Regions from separate parts of the Homo sapiens genome. Here regions 1 and 2 are each linked to region 3. Evidence: fine-mapped expression QTL. A gene starts in region 3. Each other region holds a variant in brackets. All regions are shown on one strand. Distances are from middle to middle.

Region 1 (6,668 bases), 46 kb after region 3:
CCCCCACGACCTCTTCCTGTCACAGGCAACCATTCTACCAACGGAGATAATATTGCCAGAGAAGACGTTTTACCAGGGCAGGAGAAACATGCACCATCTTACGTCCCTTGCCCTCCATTTCTCTTCATATTTGTGTACCTGTTTGTAACTGAATGTGGTAATAGAAAATAGAAAAGACATGATGACTGGTGGCTGCTGAGTAAGCCTTCAGACACCCTTCCTAAATGCATGAGGATCTGCACTGGATTCTGCCCAAGGGCAGGTCGGGGGCAAAAGCAGATGAGTTGGCAAAAGACCACATGGAGACGAGACACCAACACTGGGGACAGGCTCATGCCAGTTTGGAATCCAGCCTTTGAACTGATTTCTCATTTTGCAAAATTATTTTCTACACCAGCTATTTCTTAAATGACTTCTGGTTGACTTGGGTGGTAACATTAAGATAAAAATGTGTTGGCAGTGAAAAAAACAAACCACACTTAAAAGAAATATTGAAGCTGGGCATGGGGGCTCACGCCTGTAATACCAGCACTTCGGGTGGCTGAGGTGGGAGGATCACTTGAGCCCAGAAGATCAAGGCTGCCGTGAGCTATAATCGCACCACTGCACTCCAGCCTGGGTGACAGAGAGAGACCGTCTCAAAAAAACAAACAAATATTGAAACGTTGCTTAGTTAAAAGCCTTTTACAATTTGTTTCCACCTAACATGTGGTTACTTATTCGATCACATAATCTGGTGAAGGAGAGTAAAGACCATGACACTGATTTGCTATTTACAACAAGGCAACATATTGCTTAGTGCTCATCAGCTTTCTAAAGAAGCTGAACATCATGTCCAGTACTTTGCAAAATTCTTTCAGATCCTCTGACAGCTTTAGTAAAAAATGTCATCACAAGCCAACTCAGTTGTCTACAAACAGGCTCTCATTTTACATTTAACTTTGAAAATATATTTACAATCCTTTGAAAATATATTTACAACAATTTAGAATCATTCTCAATTTCATTGCCTCTCAGCTGCACAGCTGGATTTTATTTGGTGCAAAAGGAAAAACTGGGTTGTAGGTAAACATTATATCATGTTTGGGGAGTGGTTTATAGAAATTTCAAGCCTCTTGTACTTTCATGAATTTTCTAACACTTTATTATTGTTATAATTATCTACTCATAATAATGACTGCCATTTATTGAGCCCATACCAGGTGCCGGCCCCTGGACTAGGAGAAACAGTTAATGTTTGTGTTACCTTGTCAGATAAGTGTCGTTGCTGAGGCTCAGGAGGATGAGGGCATGCTTGCCCAAAACTCCACAACTGGGAAATACTAGAGCCAGGATTCGGACCCCAGACAGTACGGTTCACAAGCCATATTCCCTTTAAAAATGAAGGTGACCCCTTGTCAGGCTATGGAATTTGAGGTGTGAAATTCTTTCAGCTCGTGCTGTAGTTACTAGAGATGGTCTTAATTGTCAGACAGCTCTTCAGCAGTTGGGGCAAACAGGCAAACATTAACTCATGATGACCATACCACCTGGATTAGTTTGTCCTTGTTGCATTGCTATAAGGAATGACCTGAGGCTGGGTAATTTATAAAGAAAAGAGGTTTAGTTGGCTCACCGTTCCGCAGGCTGTTCAGGAAGCGTGGCTGGGGAGACCTCAGGAAACTTACAATCATGGCAGAATGAGAAGACGAAGGAGGCACATTTTACATGGCTGGAGCAAGAGGAAGAGAGCGAAGGAGGCAGTACATACTTGTAAACAACCAGATCTCGTAAGCACTCAGTCACTATCATGAGAACAGCAAGGGGAAAATCTGCCCCCACGATCCCATCACCTCCCACCAGGCCCCACTTCCAACGCTGGGGATTACAGTTCGACACGAGATTTGGGCAGGGACACAAATCCAAACCATATCACTACCTAAGCCCATTCCTCCTACTACTGACCACTTCTTTCTTCCCTTGACCAGTGTGCATGGGTAGGAATACATACTGTATGACGCTGCTCGGTGAGAAGAAGCAATCTGACTAAACCCCTGGACTGCTTTCTGGATTTGGTTTTGTACTTCACTACTAAGGTTATTTTCGTTGGTCAGTGAACCTCTGGAACGGTAGTTCGAACAGCTTGTAATACATGTCTCATGAAAGTTACATGGATGTGTATGTATATACATGTATGCTGGAATAACTCTTTAAATCTTGATTTCAGAAATCTGGAATATTTATGCTTATACTCAAGTAAGGAATTTGATTTGAGGTATTTTAAGTAGAGTCACCAAAAATAATCCGTTGCAGCAAATTTAGAAAGTTATCATTAATGCTCAAAATATAGCATTTTCTACTTATTTTCACTTCACAATGTATCAAATAGGATTTCCAACATCTTATGAAAAGATACAGTATTTTCTCAAAGAGTAAGAAAACTGGGGCAAAGGGTAAATAAGGGTAGGAAAATAATGTGAAACCAGGGGAGAGGCTAGTACACAGAATACATGCTGTACAGCGTGTGTCATTGATTGCATCTCATTTTAAAAATAAAACGGCACATCCCACTTTCCTAAAAATGTGGCTTCTTGATCAGGAATCTCTATCTCTGTTACAGCAGTGGGACTTCTTGTCCTTTTTAATACTTTGTTCTTTCCTCCCTGCCTTAGGAAATATTCCATTTGATTCTGTCCTTGTTTTTTGTTTTTTTTTTTCCAATAGGCAGCCTTCCACAGCAGCAGTCTGAGACAATGAAAAATCACTTGAGCTTTTTAAAACAAATGATCGTGAGGAGCATTTGAGGATTCATTTGTCGAGTTAGTTGGAATGTC[G/T]TATGTGGGCAAGCTCATGTTTCCAATTTGGGACTTGGAGCAGGCAATCAGCTGTGTCGCATTCTCATATCCGCTTGAAGTCAGCCCTGAGAGCTGCGGTATCTTTAGTAGCTCACTGTGTATGGTGATAGCAAGTGTGCGAGTTGTCCTCACAGAAAACAGCTCACTTGATAGTTTATGAAGCTGCAACTTGGCAGTGCTATCCAAGACCTTTCTTTCAGAAATTGCTGTTGCCACTACCACACAGTGGACAAATCTGAAAGGGAGAATTTAGTTTTTCCACGGACTCTCCTTTTCCTATGAGGATTTTTTAGTACACCCTGTACATAAAACCATGGCTTACAAAGTGAAAACATTGATCGCTTTTTTTTTTCTTTTCTGTTTTTTGAGGCAGAGTCTCACTCTGTCACCCAGGCTGGAGTGCAGTGGCCCGATCTCAGCTCACTGTAACTTCTGCCTCCCAAATTCAAGTGATTCTCCTGCCTCAGCCTCCCGAGTAGCTGGAACTACAGGCGTGAACCACCACACCTGGCTAATTTTTTTATATTTTTTGTTTGTTTTTTAGTAGAGATGGGGTTTCACTGTGTTGGCTAGGCTGGCCTTGAACTCCTAACCTCAGGTGATCGCCAGCCTCGGCCTCCCAAAGTGCTGGGATTACAGGTGTGAGCCACCGTGCCTGGCTGATACATCAGCATTTTGAATGGATGAGTTGAATATGATTAAAAAAAAAAAAAGGCCAGGCATGATGGCTCACGTCTGTAATCCCAGCACTTTGGGAGGCTGAGGCAGGCAGATCACTTGAGGTCAGGAGTTTGAGACCAGCCTGGCCAACATGGAGAAACCCTGTCTCTACTAAAAATACAAAATATTAGCCAGGCATGGAGGTGCACACCTGTAATCCCAGCTACTCGGGAGGCTGAGGCACAAAAATCGCTTGAACCCAGGAGGCAGAGGTTGCAGTGAGCCAAGATTGCGCCACTGCACTCCAGCCTAGGTAACAGAGCAAGACTCTGTCTCAAAAAAATAAATAAATAAAAATGAAAATGAAATGTGAGTATCTATGTAGAACTGCAAAATGTCTTAGGTAAAACATAAAGTGTCCATTATTTTCCCTTTGTGCCACTGTAAATATGAAAAGAAATAATCAAATACTCTAGGCAGAATTGTAGGAGGGGGACCTAAAATTCTAAAATCAGTGTTTGCTGAACCTTTTATTTTTGCCTTCAATGACTTTTAAAAATAGATTATATTTTTAGAGTAGTTTTAGGTTTACAGAAAAATGATGCAAAGTACAAAATTCCCATTATAACCCCCTCTTTCTGTGCACAGTTTCCCCTACTATTAATGACATCTTGAATTGATGTAGTACACCTGTTGCAATTGATGACCTGACATTAATGCATTATTATTAAGTCTATAGTTTCCATTCGGATTCACTCTTTCTGTTGTACATCTCTACAGGTTTTGCTGAGTGCATGACGTCTTGTATCTACCACTACAGTATCACACCTAATAGTTTCACCACCCTAAAAATCCCCTGTGCTTCACCTATTGATCTCCCCTTCCCTACCCCTAACTCCTGGCAACCACTGGTCTTTTTACTGTCTCTCTAGTTTTGCCTTTTCCAGAATGATATGCAATTGTAACCTTTTCAGACTGGCTTCTTTAACTTAGCAATATGCATTTAAGATTCTTCCATGTCTTTTTGTGGCTCGATAGCTCATTTTTTTGTTGCTGAATAATTTTCCACTGCATAGATGCACCACAGTTTGTGCAGGAGCTGTGTGCTTGAGAAGCTATGTGTGCTCTAGGAGCTGTTCACTGGAGAAGCCACTCCTTAAAGCAGGCTGCGGGTCAAGCCTGTGGGAACCAGGAAGCAAACCGTTTTTCGTCTGCAGCATCTCTCTAGCGCCCTCTACTGACAAAGCTTAAAATTGTGCCAGCTAGCGAAGAAAAAAAATATGTAAAAGGCCCAGATTCATTTTCACTAGCAGGCAAAAAGGATGGTTTTGAGGCTGCCGGGCTATAAATCAAAAACGGGCACAACAATCTAACCTACCACAGCTAGTAAGATTCAAGGAGAGAAGCCAGGCAAACTGAAAGCTAATGACTTATGAAAAGCACCCAAGCTCACTCTCTGGACCAAAGCACTAGTTTTTTTTGTTTTGTTTTGTTTTGTTTTGTTTTGTTTTGTTTTGTTTTGTTTTGTTTTGTTTTTTGAGACAGAGTCTCACTCTGTTGCCCAGGCCGGAGTGCAATGGCATGATCTTGGCTTATTGCAAACTCCACCTCCCAGGTTCAAGCGATCCTTCCACCTCAGCCTCCTGAGTAGCTGGAATTACAGGTGTGTGCCACCATGCCTGGCTAATTTTTATATTTTTAGTAGAGACGGGGCTTCACCACGTTGACCAGGCTGGTCTTGAACTCCTGACCTGAAGTGACCCACCTGCTTCAGCCTCCCAAAGTGTTAAGATTACAGGTGTGAGCCACCATGCCCAGTCTCAAAGCACTAGTTCTGCTGATCAGTGAGTCTCAAAGTGCCCCCCTCGGATCTCTTATGCTAGAACCACCTACGGGCTTGTTACAACGCAGATTCCTGTGCTCCAGCTGGAACTGACAACTGAATTAGAATGAAGGAAGGCAGACAGGCATCTGTAGTTTAAACTTTTACTCCAGCTAGCTCTATGTACACTAACATTTAAGATTCAGGTGATCCTTGAGGGTAGGGGCCTTTTTAATTCATACTTGGCTCTTGGCCCAGTATTTGACTCTTAGAGGGTATTGCTGTAGATAGGCTGGTTCCTGCATTGGTTGGTTGGTTGGTTGGTTGGTTGAGAGATCTGATTCAAACCCAAGCAGCTGTAACTGGCCATGAGCTACAGCCCCAGCAATACTTTAACGGCATTTGGCAGATGAGCACGTCCCTTCACTAATGTTAGTAAAGCCCAGAGGTGACACATCCTCACTAGAATGGCAGATGGTATTTTCCATAGATGACTGTGGCAATATCTCCCATCCCACATCTTCTCCTACAATGTGACCTTGCCACCCTTCCATCAAGAGGCAGGGTCTATGTCCTGGATCCTTGAATCTAGGCAGGCTTGGGACTTGCTTGCAACTGATAGAATGTGCAGAAGTGATGCTCTCTGAGGCTACCTTAAAAAAGGCAATGGCCGGGCGCGGTGCCTCACGCCTGTAATCCCAGCACTTTGGGAGGCTGAGGTGGGTGGATCACAGGGTCAGGAGATCGAGACCATCCTGGCTAACATGGTGAAACTTCATCTCTACTAAAAATGCAAAAAATTAGCTGGGCGTGGTGGTGGGTGCCTGTAGTCCCAGGTACTCGGGAGGCTGAGGCAGGAGAATGGCGTGAACCCGGGAGGTGGAGCTTGCAGTGAGCCGAGATCGCGCCATTGCACTCCAGCCTGGGCGAGAGTGTGAGACTCCATCTCAAAAAGAAAAAAAAAAAAAAAAAAAGGCAATGCAGTTTCTTCCCTGTTCCTTGGGGCTCATGCTTTTGGAGCCATGAGTCTCCGTATGAAAAGTACCACTACCTTGAACCTCCACACTGTGAGGAAGCCCAGGCCTTCTGGAAAGGCCACATGTGGGTTCCCTAATCAACAGCCCTGGCTGAGTGAGGTTCCGCCCAACAGCCAGATCAACCACCAGACAGTAAGTGGTGATGTCTCCTGGGATTCCAACCCCCAGCTCTTGAGTCACTCTTAGCCATTAAGTCTTCCCAGCTGAGGCTCCCAAGCCATCCCACTGCCATGTCCAATTTCTGACCACAGAATCTGTGAGGGTAGTCAAATGGTTGTTATAAGCTGCTTAGTTTAGGGATAATTGGTTACACAG
Region 2 (6,668 bases), 25 kb after region 3:
TTTCCAACCTCACTGTCCCATCTCTGTGCGCACCGCTTCTTCCTTCAGAAACCTTGAGCGATCCGTGTTTCCTTCAGGCCGAAGTGCAGACTCTGGATATAGAAGGGCCCAAGGCTTGCTTACCAATCCTGCCTTGGTACCTGCCTTGCAGACCTTCACCCCAGTAAATTGGTCTCATCGCTACCTGAAGCACACAGTGAACTTTCCCATCTCCCTGCCTTTGCTCTTATCCTATCCTCTTCCTGTTCTCTGTGTTTCAAAATCGCATCCCTATTCTGGACCTGGCTTCACCCATGCCTCCCCTTTACTCCTACCCTGCATGCAGTTTATACACAGCACGCAGGTGGCCATCTTCCTTCCTCATAAGTTGCTGCGGCTACGTTCCCAGCTGCCATTCCATGTTGTCAGAGTGTAAGCTCATGTCTTAATAGGTATTTCTCATATTAATGTAGTGTATGATAGGGTTTGGCTGTGTCCCCACCCAAATCTCATTTTGAATTGCAGTTCCCATAATCCCCATGTGTCGTGGGAGGGACCAGGTGGAGATAACTGAATCATGGGAGCTGTTTCCCTACATCCTGTTCTCGTGATAGTAAGTTCTCACGAGATCTAATGGTTTAATAGAGGGCTTTTCCCTTCGCTCGGCTCTCATTCTCCCTCCTGCCACCATATGAAGAAAGACGTATTTGCTTCCTCTTCCACCATGATTGTAAGTTTCCTGAGCCAGCCATGCTGAACTATGAGTCAATTAAATCTGTTTCCATTATAAATTACCCAGCCTTGGGTATGTCTTTGTTAGCAGTTTGAGAATGGACTAATACAGTAAATTGGTACCACAGAGAGTGGGGTGCTGCTGTAAAGATACCCAAAAATGTGGAAGCAACTTTGGAACTGAGTAACAGGCAGAGGTTGGAACAGTTTGGAGGGTTCAGAAGAAGACAGGAAAATGTGGGAAACATTTAGAACTTCCTAGAGACTTGTTGAATAGCTTTGACAAATTGCTGATAGTGATATGGACAGTGAAGTCCAGGCTGAAGTGGTCAAGATGGAGATGAAGAACCTATTGGAAGCGGGAGTAAAGGTCACTCTTGCTATGGAAAGAGACTGGTAGCATTTTGCCTCTGCCGTAGAGATGCATGGAACTTTGAGAGAGATGAGTTAGGGTATCTGGCAGAAGAAATTTCTAAGCAGCAAAGTGTTCGAGAGGAAGCAGAGCATAAAAGTTTGGAAAATTTTGCAGCCTGATGATGGGATAGAAAAGAAAACTCCATTTTCTGGGGAGAAATTTAAGCTGGCTGCAGAAATTTGCATAAGTAACGTCAAATGTTAATCACCAAGAGAATGGGGAAGATGTCTCCAGGGCATGTCAGAGACCTTCCAGCAGCCCCTCCTATCACAAGCCTGGGGGCCTATAAGGGCCCCCCCCCCACCCCCCGCTCTATGCTGCATTGGGACATGGTGCCCTGCATCCTAGCTTCTTCAGCTCCAGCCTTGGCTAAAAGGGACCAACATAAAGCTCAGGCTGTTGCTTCAGAGGGTGCAAGCCCCAAGCCTTGGCTTACACATGGTGTTGGGCCTATGGGTGCACAGAAGTCAAGAATTAAGGTCTGGGAACCTCTGCCTAGATTTCAGAGGATGTATGGAAACACCTGGATGTCCAGGCAGAAGTTCGCTCTCTGGAGAACCTCTGCTAGGGCAGTGTGGAAGGGAAATACGGGGTTGGATCCCCCACACAGAGTCCCGATTGGTGCACTGCCTGGTGGAGCTGTGAGAACAGGGCCACCGTCCTCCAGACCCCAGAATGGTAGCTTGCACTGTGCACCCGGAAGAGTCCCAGACACTCAACACCAGCCTGTGAAAGTAACCAAGGTGGGGGTGGGGGTATACCCTGCAAAGCCACAGGAGTGGGGCTGCCCAAGGCCATGGGAGCCCACCTCTTGCATCAACATCACCTGGATGGGAGACACGGAGTCAAAGGAGATCATTTTGGAACTTTAAGGTTTAATGACTGCCGTATTGGATTTCGGACTTGCATGGCACCCGTAGCCTCTTTGTTTTGGCCAATTTCTCCCATTTGGAATGGGTGTATTTACCCAATCCCTGTACCCCCATTGTATCTAGGAAGTAACTAACTTGCTTTTGGTTTTACAGGCCCATAGGTGGAAGGGACTTGCCTTGTCTGAGATGAGACTTTGGACTTGGAGTTTTGAGTTAATGCTGGAATGAGCTAAGACTTTGGGTGACTGTTGGAAGGGCAGGGTTATGTTTGGAATTATGAGGACATGAGATTTGGGAGGGGCCAGGGACAGAATGATATGGTTTGGCTGTGTTCTCACCCCAATCTCATCTTGAATTATAGTTCCCATAATCCCCACATGTTGTGGGAGGGACCAGATGGAGAAAATTGAATCATGGGGGCTGTTTCCTCCATCCTGTTCTCGTGATAGTAAGTTCTCACAAGATCCGATGCTTTTGTAAGGGGCTTCCCCCTTGGATCGGCTCTCATTCTTCTCTCTCCTGCCACTATGTGAAGAAGGACATGTTTGCTTCCCCTTCCACCATGATTGTAAGTTTCCTGAGGCCTCAGCCATGCTGAACTGTGAGTCAATTAAACCTCTTTCCTTTATAAATTACCCAGTCTTGGGTATGTCTTTATTAGCAGCATGAGAATGGACTAATACAATGTTCAGTAAGTTGTTGCTGGTTGGTAAGTGACCTGACCTGACTACATCATTCGACCCAACTCCCAAGAAATTTTTTTTTTTTTTTGTAACGGAGTCTCACTCTGTCACACAGGCTGGAGTGCAGTGGTATGATCTCAGCTCACTGCAACCTCTGCCTCCCAGGTTCAAGTGATTCTCGTGCCTCAGACTCCAGAGTAGCTGGGATTTCAGGCATGGGCCACCACAGCTGGCTAATTTTTGTGTTTTTTTAGTAGAGGTGGGATTTCACCACGTTGGCCAGGCTGGTCTCGAACTCCTGACCTCAAGTGATCTGCCTGCCTCTGCCTCCCAAAGTGCTGGGATTACAGACATGAGCCACCACACCTGGCCCTGAGAATTTTTTTTAAAAGATGACTTCAGGCCGAGCGTGGTGGCTCACGCCTGTAATCCCAGCACTTTGGGAGGCTGAGGCAGGCAGGTCACAAGGTCAAGAGATCAAGACCATCCTAGCCAACATGGTGAAACCCATCTGTACTAAAAATACAAAAATTAGCCGGACCTGGTGGCACGCACCAGTCGTCCCAGCTACTCAGGAGGCTGAGGCAGAAGAATCACCTGAACCTGGGAGGTAGAGGTTGCAGTGAGCCGAGATTGCACCACTGCGTTCCAGCCTGGCAACAGAGCGAGACTCCATCTAAAGTTAAAAAAATAAATAAATAAATAAAAAATAAAAAAAAAACGATGACTTCAGTAACTAACGGAATTTGTAATGAAAAAAAGATTGCCAAATTTGCATTTTGCTAAAAGTTAAAGCACATCTAACTAATTGTCCTTTGCCTCAGCAAAAGATGAGCCCCCCTGTACTTGAGACAGCTATGACTCCTTTTGTGCCTCCCTTTTGATGGTTTTGGCCCCAGGGATGCATGTATTGGCGGAGTCAAGTGAATGCCCAAGGTTAGCAAGTGAATGATGGTGCTGCTGAGGGCTTGAGGGGCTTAAGACAGAACCAGCGTTTCACTTTCATACATGAAACTGTTTCTTCATATCTCAGAAATGGGCCACTCGATTAACATAATTAAAAATGAAAATCAGAATAAAACCACCTGGGTCATTAAAAGCAACCCATTGTATTACAGTGTTTCGAAGTTGGCTTTTTGATTCTATTAGGATTGGCTTACCCC[A/C]CCCTCCAAGCGGTGCACCCCGGCCTTGCCAGGCGTTAGCTGCAGATTAAGGCAGTGCCTTCTCCTGGCTTTATGTTTTGCTTTTGTAGTTTCTCTGACTGCTAAAGACAGACCTGGTGCCTTGTTGGCCTTAGGCCCTATTGTCACTCCAGTCAGGTGGGAAAGGGATGATGTTTGGGGCTTTCAGCCTGGCCTTCAGAGGACAGGAGGCGAGGGCCCAGAGAAGCAAGGGAAGATCTGCTGAGAGAAGGTAAAGAAAGGAGCAAAAAACAAAAGGAGGAAAGAGCCAGGATGACAGGACAGGGAGAGAAGAAAGGGGGACACAGTATAAAGGAGAAGCAGTGGGAGAAGTGATGAAGAGTGACAGTATGGCCTGGGAGATGCGAGTCTCCAAAGCCAAGGCATGGGTCAGGCAAGGTGGCCGTCACCGCAGCCGGAGGAGCAGCCCCAGACCACAGGTCTCGAAGGCAAGGCGCCCAGAGGTGGAGGGTTGCAACTCACCTTGAAGCTACCACTTGGCGAGTTCTGATGTAGTTTCAAGGAAGGATGGCCTTTGGGATCTGAAGAGGCTATTAAAACAACTTTCCATTTTCCAACTACGTATTTATATGAGGCTGGGCTTTTCTTTATGTATGTAAACCAAAACGTATCACAGCAGAATTCACACAAGCTGACGGGAAAATCCATCTGTCTTCTATTAGGCCAGACTTTAAGAGATTTGTGAAATGTAAAATAGTGTCATCTTCACTAAATTGTTTTTGTCTTGGAAAACATAGTTTTTTCCATAAAAATATTTAACATGTATTGTGTTTACTATTTTTATTTTTAGATGGATTAAATACTTATATAATTTCCTAGTTTTAATTTGCAATACTTATATAATTTCCTAGTTTTAATGTGCAATACTTTACATATCAGTCAGTATAATACATATATAAACAAAAGCTTTGTGGGGTGTTTAATGTTTTAGAGTTTAAGGAGGTGCTGAGGCCCGAGCTTATTCTATCCAAGGATCCAAGGGCTTGTAACTACAGGCAGCTCTCCTCTTGAGAGAGCTGAAGAGGGGCCTGTGTGCACACCCCCACACTATACACTCCCTCCTTTCTCCAAACACCCACAGTGACTCTCAGGATAAACACATGGACTCAAAGCAGTGGCCAGCCACCCTTAAAAAAATATAGTGCTGGACCCAATGTCTTTATTCTTGCTCATTGAGCCTTTCTAGTTCCCATTCTTTTATTTCGAATGAAGGTAATTGTATCCAACCATTCACATTATTTCTAGCTAATGTTTGTGAAAATTTAGGCTGTCAGGAAAAATGAATCTCTGTACACAGGGCTAATGACAAAAGAAGGGAGCATTTTCAGAACTACGCTAGCATTAGGCTTCCGTGTAGAGGAACCTGGATTAGAGTGACACTGTTGGCCTCTGCTACTCCCTCAGTCACTCTTTTAGAAGCAAAGCGGGTGGCTTCTCTGAGTATGGAAAAGGGAACTGGACATGAAAGGCTTGGTGACTTTGGCTTTCCTCTGTTCGGGAATTTCCTGCCTGTGGAGATACGCATCTAGATTGACCTGAGGGGGGCTCCTGCAATTGTTCAGTTATGCCAGTTGTTCTCAGCTGGGGACATTTTGTTCCCCAGAGGACACTGGGCAATGTCTGGAGACAGTTTTGATTATCATGACTGGAGTGCTGTTGGCATCTAGGAGTGGAGGACGGGATGCTGCTAAACCTAGTGTACAGGATAAACCCAGCGACGGTCACCTGGTCCAGCGTGCCAATGGTGCTGAGGCCAAGAGACCTAAGTTAGGTCAGTAACAGAGGCAGATAATCTGTCCATTTCAAGAGGAAGTGCTAACTAGCCCTTTTGCTCACCAATCTAAAGCCACATCCCCATCAGCTTTATTAGTAATAGCAGGGAGATTTTTACCTCTATCTTTTTATGTCTATCAGTTGATTCCGACCATGGAAGGGGAAGAGGGATATTACTTATTGAGAAAAGAATCCGGAACAGACTTTACACTGGGGCTCCATATTAGTAAGGATTAAATTCAGCTGCACACAACACACAACGGTGGCTTAAACAAGACAGAAGTTTATTTCTCTCACACATTTAGGAAGGAGACAGTCCCGAGTTGGTATTGTTCTCCAAGAGGTCAGGAACCAAGGCCCCTTCCAGGTATTGGTTCTTCATGCTTGGCTTCCATTCCCAAGGTCACTTCAAAATCCAAGGGAGCTGCTGGAGCCCACCCCATAATAGTACGTATTATTTACATGCTAGCCAGCAGGAAGGATGAAGAAGGAGAAGAAGGGTACAATTCCTGTCCTTAAGGACACTTCCAGCAGGTTGTGACCACACTTTTAACTGACATCCATTGGTCACAGTTTAGCCACTTAGACTTAGAAATGTCGTGTTTAGAGGAGGGAGGGACAGCCACGTGCCCAGCTAACGACCGAGAATTCTGTTGCTATTCAAGAAGGGAAGAATAGGAACTGGATATGGTAGATACTCAAGTGTCTATCAAGTTCTGGTTCCCCTCCCCTTCTGGGAACCAAAAGATGGAACCTATTAGTGAGGCCATCTGGTGTGTTCTAGCCAGTTGGCTATGACGGGAGGTGACACGTGGTGACAAGATTATAGTCTCCAGTAGCTCTCCCCTGCCAAGGCAGCCAAGGAAGCCACAGGTTCCAGATGTAGCTACAAGGCACTGCAGCCTCCACTGACGTGGATCCCTCAGAGACTGAATGGGAATGGAGCCTCTGCCAATCTACATGCAACATGAACTGTATCAAAGCACTGAGATTTATTTGAAGTTAATTTTTA
Region 3 (6,668 bases):
TCACGGACCTCTGGAGAGGACATTTTCAAGTAGAAGGGAAGTAAAATATCTTCTGACAGATGAGGGCTTTCAGGATTGCTCAAGCACACCTGTGCAGTTGGCCTAATATTTCAGCCCTAACTTTAAAAATGATCCCTGGGAAGTATAGTCTTCAGCCCTAACTTGAAAGTCCCAAAGCCCATGCCCCATTCTGCCCTAGCACCATTTTGCCCCAGGAAGCATACACAAAAACAGGGCTGGAACTGGGAAATACCAGAATTTCTGTGCTCAGAACTGTGACTGTATATCAATGTAAGGCCATGGTGGACAAAGCCAAGGATGTAGTGGCCAAAGTCCTGGTATTTGAGTACCCAACCTGGAACAAACTTCTCTGAGCCTCTGTACCCTCATATATATATATATATATATATATTTTTTTTTTTTTTTTTTTTTTGAGACAGGGTCTTGCTGTGTCACCCAGGCTGGAGTGCAGTGGCATGATCTTAGCTCACTGCAACCTCTACCTCCCAAGTTCAAGCGATTCTCTTGCCTCAGCCTCCTTAGTAGCTGGGATTACAGTCGCCTGCCACCACGCCCGGCTAATTTTTGTATTTATAGAAGAGACAGGGTTGCGCCATGATGGTCAGGCTGGTCTCAAACTCCTGACCTCAATCAAGTGAGCCTCCTGCCTCAGCCTCCCAAAGTGCTGAGATTATAGGTGTGAGCCACCATGCCCGGCCTTCTATAAAGTATTCTTGAAATAGCTGCCTCACAGGCAGATGTGGAAAAGCACCTGTAGTTTACAACTAATTCAGTTATTATTTTTTCTTCCTCTGCTGTGCTGCTATTGTGTGTTAGACACACTCTAATTTAGTACTTATGCTTTCTGCTTATGTATCTCCCCCAGGCTAGTAGCCCCTGGAACACAAGGTAAGGCCCCATCAGATTCAGTTCTTCCCTCAACACCTACCCTACTGCTTGGCCCATGAGAGATGCTTCAAAAAAAAAAATGTGCAAAAGATTATGTCTTGGGGAAAAGCCAGGTCACAGGCACAATAAGTGTGAGGATTGTGCCATTTCCCCGACTCTCCCCAGCTCTGTGCTCATGCTCTTTCTTTAGCCTGGACCACTTGCTACTCCGTCCTGATCCACACCCCACCTTTACTTGCCCAACCCCAACTCTGGTTGTAGAGAATCTAGTCGTCCTTGAAGAATCTTCCTAAAGATCTGAATGCCAAATTAATTAATCAGTTGTGGAGTCAAAGCCTGCCTCTACCACTGCCTACTAGGACCTTGAGTAAATTTTTGTAATCCTGCTGATCTTAATTTTGCTGATCTGCAAATTGGGCAGAAAAATACCTATCTTTCAGTTTTGATATGAGATTTACATAAGCAAATGCATGTGGAATGCCAAACACATAGCAGATGCTGAATAAATGCCTTCAAATGGCCATTTCTAACGGCTCTGGGAAATTCTCCATTCTGCAACAATATGCAGTCTTCTCGAGACCTCCGCTACGTTCTCTTTTTTTCTCATCGTTTATTTAGCAAACATTAATAGAGCATGTTTTATTTGCCAGACACTTTGCTAGATGATAGAGATACAAAGATTAGAAGCCAGGCATGGGTGTCTCACGCCTATAACTCCAGCACCTTGGGAGGCTGAGGCAGGAGGATTGCTTAAGGTAAGGAGTTCAAAAAATAAAATAAAATAAAACATAAAAAAAAATTAGCCAGGCATGGTGGCATGCACCTGTACTCTCAGCTACTTGGGAGTCTTAGCTGGGAGATCACTTGAGGCCAGGAGTTTGACGCTACAGTGAATTATGACCGTGACACTGCCCTCCAGCCTGGGTGACAGAAAAAAAAAAAAAAAGATTAGAGAAGGCCTCTGACCTCACAGTCTAGTGGGGAACCAGCTTCTTCGGGGATTTTTCCCTGCCTCACCTCGCCCACCTCAGGCTGTGTAGAAACCCCCAGTCTAACCAGTTGTTTCCCTCCAACTCTGTACATACCACGGTGTGTTGCCTTTTTATTTCAAACATGTGCTGGCCTCTGTTCTAATCACAGCAACCTGTATCCATTAATCCATTTAATCCTCACAACAACCTTATCAGGTAAGTATTGTCATTATTTGCATTTTCCAAATAAGGAAACTGAGGCACAGACAGATTAAGTAACTGGCTTAATAAGGTCTTCTAGTTTATACGTAGAGGCAGCCAGGACTTGAAAACACACCTTCTGGCTCCAGCTAAATTAACATGCTCTGTTTACTTATCTGTCCCCACTGAAATTGGAGGTTGAACCCGTGGCATATTCAAACGAATAAGTATCGCCTGTGCCCACCCCAATATCTGACACTATAGGTCAACGATAACTCATTCGTCAAACAGGAAGGAGGAAGGAAGGAAGGAAGGAAGGAAGGAAGGAAGGCAGGCAGGCAGGCAGGCGGGCAGGCAGAGGTAAAACGATTCCACAATGGTGTGGTTGCTCACATTTACTAAGCATCAACACTGACCTGCCTGTAAGATGCGCTAACAGAGCTCACGAATAAATGAAGGCTGGGTGTGGTAGCTCACGCCTATAATCCCAGCACTTGAGAGGCCAAGGTGGGAGGACGGCTTGAGCCCCAGAGTTCAGGACCAGCCGGGGCAATATACTGAGACCCTGTCTCTACTAAAATTAAAATTAAAAATTAGCCAGGCACAGTGGCGCGCGCATGTAGTCCCAGCTACTTGGGAGGCTGAGGTGGAGGATCGCTTGAGCCCGGGAATTCAAGGCTGCAGTGAGCCCTGACCACGCCACTGCACTCCAGCCTGGGCGACCAAAAAAAAAATTAAAATAAAAAAAAGGAATAAATGAACATCTCTGCGGCTCAGAACTTTCAGTTATCACCTCAGAACTTTCAGTTATCACCGTCGAGAATTCCAGGCGACCGCTGGGTTTTCCCGGTTGCCTCTTTTCTCTCACCCCTGTTCCCTTCCTCTGGAATTCGGCTCCACCTCTTCCTTTTCCTTTGCCAGCCTCTCCGTGGATTCCGCGGTCCGGGTTTCCCGGGCGGCAGCCGCCGGGAGAGGATCGGTGCGTGGGAGCGCTCCGGCAGCGGCGGGCATGCGCAGAGGGGGGCGGTGTACTGCGCATGCGGGAAGATGGCGGGCCGGGCGACTTGAGATCCGCGGGTCTCCCTCCTCTTTTTCCGTCTGCGTCGGGAGCTCCCGGGCACGTGAGGCCGTGCCGCGTTTACTGGCGGGCGGGACGGCCTAGCCGGGCGGCGCCTCGGAGGAAGCCGCGGACCCCTTAGGTGCTGGGCCCTTGGAAATCGGCGCGTGGGGGGCGGTGCTCGAGCTGAGCGCGAGAGGGCGGGAGAGCTCGTGGGGTGCGAGGGGAGCAGGACGCCCGGCCGGGCAGCATGAGTCAGCAGCGGCCGGCGAGGAAGTTACCCAGTCTCCTCCTGGACCCGACGGAGGAGACGGTTCGCCGTCGGTGCCGAGACCCCATCAACGTGGAGGGCCTGCTGGTAAGCTCCGGGACGGGACGGGGACGGGCGGTGGTCTCCCAAATCCGGCCCCCTCCTCCCCGCGCCGCCGCCAACCCCGCTGGCCGTCGTCTGGGTCGTCTGCTCCCCCTGGGCCAGGCGCTGCCCATCACGTGCTGCGAACTGCGCTCTCCCGCCTTCTGCTTTCAGCATCTGCTCACAGACGTGGTATCAGTCTTCTAGGCTTTTACATCGGAACTTCAGAGCACTGTTGGAGAAAATTGCTCAACTTTGCATTAGAGAGTCCATGTTTATCTCCTTCTATGGACTCTAGCTGTATCTCTGCAACCTATCATTTGTTTTTCTGCCTCCTCTCCCATCCTTCTGCTCTACTGCAGCCGTTTAAAACCTTGTCCACGCTTTATATTTCCCACGCCACAGCTCCCATTCATCAAATTATCTCCCCACCTGTTTGACAGAGAAAATGGTTAGGAAATTTGGCTCCCTTTCCTGCAAAGGCTGATTTCTTCTCTTGTTCAGGACCAGATGCTGTATTCCCCGCGGTTATCAGGGCCCTCAACAAATGCATTTTCTTTTTCTTTTCTTTCTTTTTTTTCTTTTTTTTTTTTTTTTTTGAGATTGAGTTTTACTTTTGTTCCCCAGGCTGGAGTGCAATGGCGCAATCTCAGCTCACTGCAACCCCCACCTCCCAGGTTCAAGAGATTCTCCTGCTTCAGCCTCCCATGTAGCTGGGATCACAGGCATGCGCCACCACACCCAGCTAATTTTGTATTTTTAGTAGAGACGGGATTTCGCCGTGTTGGCCAGGCTGGTCTCGAACTCCTGACGACCTCAGGTGATCCACCGAGCCCGACCTCTCCCCGTATTTTCAATTTCTCTGCTGCTTTCTTTCTATAACTAGTAGTAATTAAACATTTTCCCAAGTCATTATGCCTGGTTCCCCTACCAAATAGTTTGTGATTATTGCCTCATTTAATTTCTCATTTCTCACAGCAGTGTTTTATAATACTAAAAGATTATTATTCTTGTTTCACGGTTGCCAAAACAGACTTGGAGATGCATGTAACGCCGGCTTGCCTGTGGCTGGATAATAAGTGTAGAAACTTGGGTTGAAGCTCCAAATGTCTAACTCCAGATGATAAATTCTTGACTACTAAAACCGCATTCTAAATCCATCCCCATCTTAAAAGATCTCTCCCTTGATTCCATATCCCCTCCCATCTACTGTCTCTCTTCCTCTTCACAGCTAAACTTTTTTTTTTTTTTTTTTTTTTTGGTGACGAAGTCTTGCTCTGTCACCCAGGCTGGAGTGCAGTGGCCTGATCTCGGTTCACTGCAAGCTCCGCCTCCCGAGTTCACGCCATTTTCCTGCCTCAGCCTCCTGAGTAGCTGGGACTACAGGCACCCGCCACCACGCACGGCTAATTTTTTTTTGTATTTTTAGTAGAGATGGGGTTTCACCGTGTAAGCCAGGATGGTCTCAATCTCCTGACCTCGTGATCCACCCGCCTCAGCCTCCCAAAGTGCTTTCACAGCTAAACTTCTTGAAAAGGTTATTTACACTCACTGTTTCCACTTGATGGCCTCTTATTACCAGCCAACCCACTGCTGGGGACCCCTATCCTAAGCACACTTGTAAGACCATTCTAACCAAGGTCACCGACAAGCTCGTCAATTCCAGCAGCTGTTGTAGTTTTGACTACAACACTCGTGTTAGAAACCCTCCCTTGAGCTTCCTTGACGTTTGATGCTCCATCTGCTTCTCTGGCTTCTCCTTGTCCTCATCCTCTTCCCATTCCTTCATGTTGATTTGTTTTTCTGTTTTTGTTTTTGTCCCCCCCCCCGGTGCAGGATCTCACTCTGTCACCCTGGCTGGAGTGCAGTGGCACATCATGGCTCACTGCAGCCTTACCTCCCAGGCTCAAGTGATCCTTCTGCCTCCAACTCCCAAGTAGCTGAGACCACAGGCACATGCCACCACACCTGGCTAATTATTTTTATTTTTAGAGATGGGAGTCTTCCTATGGGGCCCAGGCTGGTCTTGAACTCCTGGGCTCAAGCAGTCCTCTCACCTCAGCTCCCCAAAGTGCTGGGATTACAGGCGTGAGCCTCTGCAGCTGGCCACATGTTGGTATTATTCAGGGTTCTCTTCTACCGTCTCTACACATTCTTCTTAGGGGAGTTCATTCACTCCTCCCATGACTTCTGTTACCATCTACATTTGATCATTGAACGACTCAGGGATTGGGGCACCAAATCCCATGAAATTCAAAATCTGAATATAACTTTGATTCCCCCAAAACTTTACTGTTTGCTGGAAGCCTTACTGATACCGTAAACAGTTAATTGACACATATTTTGTATTTATATGTATTAGTTACTGTTTTCTTATAGTAAAGTAGCTAAAGAAAAGAAAATGTTATTAAGAAAATCATAAATAAGAGAAAATCCTACTCCTTCGGGGGAATTAGGTCATCGTAAAGGTCTTCATCCTTGTCTTCACACTAAGTGGGCTGATGAACAAGAGTAAGAGGAGGAGCTGGTTTTGCTCTCTAAGGGGTGGCAGCGGGTAAAGAAAATTGGTCTCTAAGTGGACCCACACAATTCAAACCTGTGTTGTTTGAGGGTCAGCTGTATATTGGTACCATCTGTATTGGTGGTCTTAATATTTGAGAACGTGATAAAAACTCTAAGCTCACTGTGGAAAAACCACTTAGTTTGCATGTAGTATCAGCAGATACATCCCTTGAAATCTTAGACATACAGTTCTGGTATTTTCAGTTACCATGTCATAATTCCCAAATCTATAAATCTCCTTCAGGGTTTTCCAGCTGTCTACTAGACCTTCCTACTTAGGTTTCAAACTCCTATTAGTCCCCTCTCATCTGAGGTTTCACTTTTCTTTATTTCAGTTAACCTGTGGTCCCCCAAACTATTAAAATGAAAATTCCAGAAATAATTCATTAGTTTTAAACTGCTTGCCATTCTCAGTAGTGTCATGAAATCTTGAGCTGTCCAGTACCACCCAGCACCTGAATCTTCCTTTGTCCAGAGTTCCCATGCTGTCACTGCGCCCTGCCCTTAGTCGCTTAGTAGCTGTTTCTTGATTCTCAGACCAACTGTCACGGTGCTTGTGTTAAGTAGCCCTTATTTTCTCAGTAATGGCCCCAAAGCACAAAAGTAGTGCTTCCAG

Which allele goes with the higher level. Positions count from the first base shown, and alleles are read on the strand shown. Sizes are in standard deviations (SD) of each study's normalised expression. Not every link is listed here.
With allele A in place of C in region 2, the expression in subcutaneous fat of the gene that starts at base 3,107 in region 3 is higher (small effect, 0.15 SD a copy in GTEx).

Evidence for each region. PIP is the estimated chance that this variant, and not a neighbour inherited with it, causes the effect. A credible set is the group of variants that fine-mapping cannot tell apart.
Region 1: its variant is the best candidate, but not a certain one, in a credible set for the expression of E2F6 in whole blood (TOPMed, PIP 0.85).
Region 2: its variant is the best candidate, but not a certain one, in a credible set for the expression of E2F6 in subcutaneous fat (GTEx, PIP 0.76).

What each region holds. Positions count from the first base shown.
Region 1 is chr2:11,416,214-11,422,881 of GRCh38, reverse strand. It overlaps LOC105373429 (a long non-coding RNA gene), which reads right to left. Exons shown (of 4, transcript XR_001739285.2): 3 at 1,616-1,711; 4 at 845-1,372. Among named protein-coding and RNA genes, the nearest start is that of LINC00570, 26 kb to the right of the region's middle. The variant G/T (reference allele first, on the strand shown) is at 2,814.
Region 2 is chr2:11,437,620-11,444,287 of GRCh38, reverse strand. No RefSeq gene overlaps it. Among named protein-coding and RNA genes, the nearest start is that of E2F6, 25 kb to the left of the region's middle. The variant A/C (reference allele first, on the strand shown) is at 3,845.
Region 3 is chr2:11,462,600-11,469,267 of GRCh38, reverse strand. It overlaps E2F6 (E2F transcription factor 6), which reads left to right and starts at 3,107. Exons shown (of 7, transcript NM_198256.4): 1 at 3,107-3,496. The coding sequence starts at 3,389. RefSeq lists enhancers at 2,292-2,371, 2,799-3,355, 3,356-3,913.